Regions from separate parts of the Homo sapiens genome. Here region 1 is reported to be linked to region 2. The links are microRNA targets in miRTarBase. Many come from high-throughput screens and were not tested one by one. Region 2 holds a microRNA gene; the other region holds the end of a gene's coding sequence.

Region 1 (3,000 bases), not on the chromosome of region 2:
TGCTGATGACTATTAGTAGCACTCCCAATCAAGGAAGAATTTTTTAGCCCCAAATGCCAGTAGTATACCAGTTGAGAAGGTTTTGGGTAATTGAGTGACAAAGAAGAAAGGATAGGGTTTTATTTCCGTGAAAATGGAAATAGTGGCTCTTATTAATTAAACACATTCTTTCAACAGGATTATGAATTTCTGTTTGAAGTTGGTGTTTCCAATGTATTTGGTCCTGGGACTCGAATTCCAAAGGCTGCCGTTCAGGTGCTTGATGATATTGAGAAGTGTTTGGAAAAGAAGCAGCAATCTGTATAATATCCTCTTTTTGTTTTAGCTTTTGTCTAAAATATTATTTTAGTTATGATCAAAGAAGAGAGTAAAGCTATGTCTTCAATTTAATTTCAATACCTGATTTGTACTTTCCTTGAAAGCTTTACTTTAAAATACCTTACTTATAGGCCTGGTGTCATGCTATAAGTATGTACATACAGTTTCACTTCAAAAATAAAAAAAAAATCCCTAAAAACTCTCTATACTCTCTATAACAATACTTTATCAAGAACTCTGGACAATGGTATTATTTTTAAAAATCATGGTGATGTATTTATTAGAATGTTTCTTATAAATCTGTTTACTTTTTATATTAAGAATTAAACTGTACCTAAAAAAACTCTGACTATTCCCATTTGTCAGTTTAGCATTACATTGTCTTGAGCACCAGAAAATAAAATCCATATATTAATAAAAACCTATCTTGAAAAACTAGTGGAGTGTATTTACGTGGCAAAAGAGATTTTGGGAGGAGTCCTCAGCCAAATTCTACCAGAATCACCTTAATAAAAGAAGTATTAAAATCAAGCACAGCAGGTTGGAATATGGGGAATTTGACAGTATATTTCTTCAAGTCTGAGTTTACTTTCTTCCTGATCATGACCATCTGACCTTGTTATTTCTGGGCTTGGCTCAAGACCAAGGAGAGTGGATGTTGATGAACATTCCTTTAAATAAAAGTGCTTAGGTTGTAGTTATGGCTTTGTCTAGAATGGTGATGTCAACTGTGAGTGTAGGTCTGTGATATAGAAAGAATTCAACTTTCCAGATCTAGAAAGATGCTACCTTGCATAGATTTGCTCCTTAAACATAAATTGCAAAAATAAAAATATCACAGAGAACACCTGTACTTTGCTTACTGAAAGATTTGCTCACTAAAGAAGGAAAGTTGCCATTTACCTGTTTAACAAATCTGCACATCCTGCACATGTTCCCCAGAATGTAAAATAAAAAAAGTTTAAATAAAAAAGGAAAGTTGTCCTTTATTGTTAACATGATCCATTACATGAATATAACATAAATAATTATCTTTTTTAATAAATTTCTATTGTATTAGATCAGAGAGCAGTCTTTTGGAAAGTATTATAGATACATTACTGTAGAATTTACAAACTCATTGTAATACAATGTATTTAATTTTCAGAATATGATTATCTGAATGGTATTGTCATGATTATTGTTCCCATTTTCAGATGAACACTGACTTCAAGTCCAATGATATATTCACTATGCCATTTTATTGACTTTTCCTTGTAAAGCAATGCACACTAATTTAGTAAGTATTTGGTTTCTGTGATGTGTTCAGTTGCGTGCTGGGTGACATGTGAAATAAACTCATCCTTGAGGAATTTACAGCTCTTGACAGTATCTTTTGAGTAGACTACTTTGGGAGGAAGAATAGCAGCCACTTGCTACCAAATTTCACATCCATTGTGTGTGTGTGTGTGTGTGTGTGTGTGTGTTTGTGTGTGTGTGTTTACCCGAAGTCAGAAGTACTGGCTCCAATAACCTTACTATTGAAAACCTATTTTCTGAAATATCCAGTGGCATAACTCATAGAAATGAAATCTGGCCTGACTCTAAGATTAAATTTTCTCATTATTATTAAATCGAGAAAGTGTTAAAACTTAAACACTTTAGTGTTATTTAGATTCCAAAAGATTCCAAAAGAAATTTCATCCGACCTTTATTACTATCCTTATTTTTGGATGAAAACTTGTATGCCCAACAATGAGCTGACTTTTGGAAATGATCAGGAAAATAACCAAGTATATTAAAAAAGTGGATAGATATTTTATACAGATAAGCTATCCGATATTCACCAAATAGTACAAGAAAATAATTAATGGATCAGGAAGACAACTACTTTCCTCATTTCCTTTCATCGAAAACATCTGATTCAAAATAGAAGATTCCAGCACAACCAAAACATACTGCACAAAGCAATTTAACTTACTGATATGTGTTGTTTCACAGGTGAGCACTTCATCAATCTAATAGTGCCCAATCTTAGTTACAGTTATTTCATCTTTGATAAGATTATATTTATGATGCATGATGCCAGTGAGGCAACTGACAGAGATAGGAAGAAGATTTTGCATTCATAGCCAGTGTGATCTAGATATCTTTGCTTTGTTTATAGGCTAATGAAGAATCAAGAGTTCATCTGTGAGAAACACACCATATACACATATCCACACCTGAACTGAAGAAATAGGGAACTCAGGCATTAACTAACTTAAACTCTTACCAATCAGGGTTCAGAGAAGAAGAATCAGTAGGAGACGTGTGTATGAGTGTGTGTGTGTGTGTGTGTGTGTGTGTGTGTGTGTGTGTTTATGAGCCGGCTGGAACCCCACAGGCATAAGCTGAAGCTTGTTTTCTTCAGGGAACCAGTCAGGAAGGAAGATAATAGACGGAAGGGAGAGCAATTGTTGATTCAATGACTGGAGTCTGGGCTCAGGAAAGGTTCAAACCCTTTTTATTATTTTTATTTTGTATTTTTAAATTATACTTTAAGTTCTAGGATGCATGTGCAGGACATGCAGGTTTTGTTACATAGATATACATGTGGCATGGCGGTTTGCTGCACCCATCAACCCATCATCTAAGTTTTTTAAGCCCTGCATGCATTAGGTATTTGTCCTGATGTTCTCCCTTGCCTTGCTCCCCAACTCC
Region 2 (4,362 bases):
GAGGAAGATTTGATTGATTGTTTTTTATGTATACAAGGGGCAGGCCGGGTGCAGTGGCTCACGCCTGTAATCCTAGCACTTTGAGAGGCTGAAGCAGGTGGATTGCCTGAGCTCAGGAGTTCAAGACCAGCCTGGGCAGCATGGTGAAACCCCATTTCTACTTAGATACAAAAAAAACCAGCCAGGCATGATGGCTCCCGCCTGTAGTCCTAGTCCAGCTACTCGAGAGGCTGAGGCAGGAGAATTGTTTAAACTGGGAGGCAGAGGTTGTAGTGAGCCGAGATCGTACCACTGCACTTCAGCCTGGATGACAGAGTGAGTCTCTGTCTCCAAAAAAAGACAGAGTGAGACTCTGTCTCCAAAAAATGAAAGTATACAAAGGACAGTTGTTTTACCCAGAAAGGAAGAAATAAGAAAGTCAATTATTAGAAATTTGTTTAACTGGCATGTGTTGAGTTCCTATACCTTATTAGATACATTTGAACATTCTTTCATTAAGTTCTTAAAAAATATGAATTAGGTATTATTTTCATCTCCCATCTTACAGATAAGGAAACTAAGATTTAGAGAGTATAGGTCACTTGCCCAAGGTCACGGACTACTGGGAAGCAGGGACATGAATTGAATCAAACTCTTTTCAAATCTAAATTCAGTGCACTTAATTTCTGTGTCATGCCATCACACTTTCTCTCCATGAAAGCTAATTTCTCTTTTAACATTAGGTTTTATAGGTAGTTCTACTAATTATGTTTGTGAAGTTTTGTTTTCTTTTCCCTTCACAAGGGCTGGACACAGATCAGCATTCTCATGTTATGAATGATTTAGCTTCGGATTACTCTTCTGCAAATGGAGGGAGGAGGCAAACCTCAAATTAAAGGCAGGGTTGGAATATAAAAGTCTCAGCTCCTCAAGAGTCCAGAAAAACCTCCTCCCAAGAGTGCTGTGGCCTCTTGGCGCCTCTCCAGGCCCAGCCTGCCTGCAGGACTTGCTTGCTCCATCTTGCCGGTTCTCAACGGAGAACTCTTTGTTTTGGACCCTGTTCTTGTATTCTGCTCAGTGGACTTGAAAATTGGAAGTTTCCTTGCTTCCTGGTCCTTCCTGTGCCTGGGAAACAGACTTGGAATTCTTCTTTTCTTCTCTTCATTCAGCAAAAAGACAACCCCACCAGTTACCATTCCTTGTATTAGTTCTTGGAACCCAGCCTGGGCCAACAGTTAGGCCCCCTGAGAAAAGAAGCCTAACTTCATTTGCCTAGTCCTTCCCTCAATAGATTAAGAAATGAAGAGAAAAAAACCTTCTTAACATATACTACATAATACTAATATTTACTTTAAAAAAAAAATAAAGGCTTAACCCCTGCATTTTCATCACTTGAGAAAATTGATATAAGCTAATATTTTCAATAATTTAAAGAAAATAAACCATTTCTTTCCTGCTCCCCTCCCCTTCTGAATATTCGGCATAAATAGTTGCTTGGGTAGAATAAATTCTCACTATTCATTGGTTTGAATGCTTGTGTATATCCCAAGGGTATACACAATGACCTCTACACACATGACCTCTGTTTTACATAGTCAACTTTTATTTTGCTGAGGCAGAAATAATGCATGCAGCAAAGACTGCCAGCTGTTTACCAAAATCCCTTCTCCTCTTCTTCCTGAGCACACAGCTAGACTATACTTCCCAGTCTCCATTGCAATTCTGTGTGGCCACATACTAGAGCTCTTGCACTGCTGTGTTTTTGCATCCCCTTCTACCTTCTGGCTTCCTGAGATGGAGCAGACTATATGCAGTGGACCAGGATGGCAAGGGCTCTACTGTCCTTTCAGGAGAGCCCTTGCCATCCTGGTCCACTGCATATAGCCGAGCTCCCACTGACCTGGAACCCTCATCCTGGACTGTTGTCCAAAAGAGAGATAGATGTGTTTTTCCCTCAAACATGAGAAGCTGAATTTGGCGGTCTATTTGTTACGATATCATAGCCTGTCCTAACTGAAACAGGGCACATGTAGTATGTAGCACAAGTTTCTTAGCTAGTGAGAGTGCTTAGCAGAAGCTCAGTGCCTGCCCTTCACCAAGATTTGAGGTTTCCTACTCATGGAGTGTCATCAGTAACTCTTGCCAAGTGATAAATCTTTTGAATATTGGTGGAATATGATAACACAAAGTAAACTAACCCCTAAATGTTGGTAGCAAAAGTAAAATACAATTGAGTGTGTCTTAGAGGGCAAAGGTTCTTGGCTAAAAGGTGGTTGTTTTCTAGAGTTTAACAATAAAATACCAAACTCATATTAGAAATAGGAATAATTTTACCATATGCTCCACATATAGAAAGAATAAAAAACTCAATTCTGGAACTGTTTCACCAAATGCTTCAACCAGAATTTTAAAAATAAATATATAAATAACTATGGTCCTGAATTTATAATATTAATGATATGTAGGAATAATTTACATTTTTTGATTTAACTCACAACATTTCAGGTAGAAAATTATATGGTATATATATGGAAATTTAATGATTTACACACACCCACACTTACATATATACCGACATACAAAGTTATCACCTTATGATATATTCCTTCTAAATATTATTTGTTTGATCCAAACTCTAGGATGAATTTACCTTCTTAATTCTCTAAAACTATGATATTAGACCACATATTTTTGCATCTTAAATTGTAAAATTTCAGAACATAGAGAAAAGAAGAAAAGAGATATAAATGATATTTATTCAAGACTATTGAACTCATGTGGAAAAATAGTCCCCCGAGGACGTCAGGTCCTAATCCTTAGAATCTGTAAATACTACCTGATACAGAAAAAAGGTTTCTGTCTGTAGGAACCTAAGAAAAGACATTTTTAAATTAAAAACAATTAAAACATTAAAAATTTAAGGTCTTTATAGGTATGATTAAGTTAAGGATATTGTGATGAAGAGGTTATCACAGCTTATTAGAATGGGCCCTAGATGCAGTCACGTATATCCTTATGAGAGAGAGGCAGAGGGAGAGCTGACAACGAGGAGAAGGCAATGTGATCAGGGAGGCAGATGGGAGTGATGCAGCCACAAGCCAAGAAGTGCTGGCAGTCCCATGAGCAGGAAGAGGAAAGGCCAGATTCTCTCTTAGAGTTCCCAGAGGGAGCATGGCCTGGCTAACTCCTGGATGTAGGCCTAGTGAAACTGATTTTGGAGTTTTGTCCCCTAGAACTGTGAGAGGATAAGTTTATGTGGTTTTAAGCCATTGAGTTTGTGGTGATTTGTTATAGCAGCCACAGGAAACTAATCCAATTCCATTTTCTAACAGCTGAGTTCAACTTTGCTAAGTTTATATCTGTGATATTTTATCCTAAGTCTTTGGGGACCTAAGTTTGTTTTCCTTTTCCTTGGCCTGGAAAAGACAAATGTCCCACCCATTGTATTACATGTTGTTGAATGTCTTTAGTGAGCTCAAGAGAGGGAACATCTCTCTTCTCCAGCTGAGTCTGAGTCATTGAAAAACAGAGTAAGATAGATAGAGAGGAAATTATCAATTTTATCATTGTTAAAGTTGATTTTGGAGGATCGCCTTACTATCACTGAATCTCAGATTTAGAGAGACTTACCTACCTTATTTCCAACATTAGACAATGTACTCTAAAATGTAGGGTCTGAAATAGCAGAGCAGAAAGTATGCTTTCTCTATGCACATAGCTCTCAAGAGAATGAGGAGGTAAAGGGACTCAATAACATTAAATGATTCCCTCTTCTCCTGAGAACAGAGATGTCAGGACTGCTGTGCTAGTGGAAATCTTTTTATATGGAAAGAAGTGCTGGGAGTGGAGATGAAACATTTCCTATGGTTCCATCTCCTTATGGGCCAAGATTGACAGCTATCTGTGGGCAGAAACAGTGACACTCTAGGCTTTACAAGCCGAGTGGAAGACAACTTAAACCATAGATAGATAGTAAAGTCCTAGCTGCTCTCAGCTTAAATGTGAATTTTGGACTTGGGACAGTGTTTAAGATCCTAAATGAGTCTGCTGAAGTCTAGTTAAGTCCTGAATATCCCCCGATTCACACATGGACCTTTGTTTGTTAGCATATTCCACCCACCTCTTCTTTTAATCTGTTAAAGGAGACTTCTGCTTTATACAATCAGGTAATAAAATCTGTCTTTATAAATATACTTGTTAGTATGCATTTAGAAATCTAAGTCCTCACTCTTTTATAGACAGGCACTAATAGGTTACCTACTTTTTTCACCAAATGATTCTTACTTGAAAATTAAAAGAACATTGCATTTAGTGTTAAAAGCCTGTAACCTCAACATGAGGTCTCAATAACCCAGCTGCTATCTATTTATCTTGGTAGATTCA

Evidence for each region. Region 2 holds the annotated microRNA hsa-miR-4776-3p (CUUGCCAUCCUGGUCCACUGCAU, at 1,837-1,859, shown strand). A microRNA usually pairs through its seed, bases 2 to 8, with sites in the 3' UTR of a target mRNA and lowers its output. Matches are read on the target gene's strand: a 7mer-m8 pairs with bases 2 to 8, a 7mer-A1 pairs with bases 2 to 7 and ends in A, and an 8mer does both.
Region 1: miRTarBase lists MMUT as a target of hsa-miR-4776-3p. Seed matches in the 3' UTR shown: 7mer-A1 at 773-779.

What each region holds. Positions count from the first base shown.
Region 1 is chr6:49,429,034-49,432,033 of GRCh38, reverse strand. MMUT (methylmalonyl-CoA mutase) reads left to right here. Exons shown (of 13, transcript NM_000255.4): 13 at 178-1,674. The coding sequence ends at 306. Among named protein-coding and RNA genes, the nearest start is that of MMUT, 33 kb to the left of the region's middle.
Region 2 is chr2:212,923,758-212,928,119 of GRCh38, reverse strand. It overlaps MIR4776-2 (microRNA 4776-2), which reads left to right and starts at 1,784; the gene lies at 1,784-1,863. MIR4776-1 (microRNA 4776-1) reads right to left here and starts at 1,863; the gene lies at 1,784-1,863.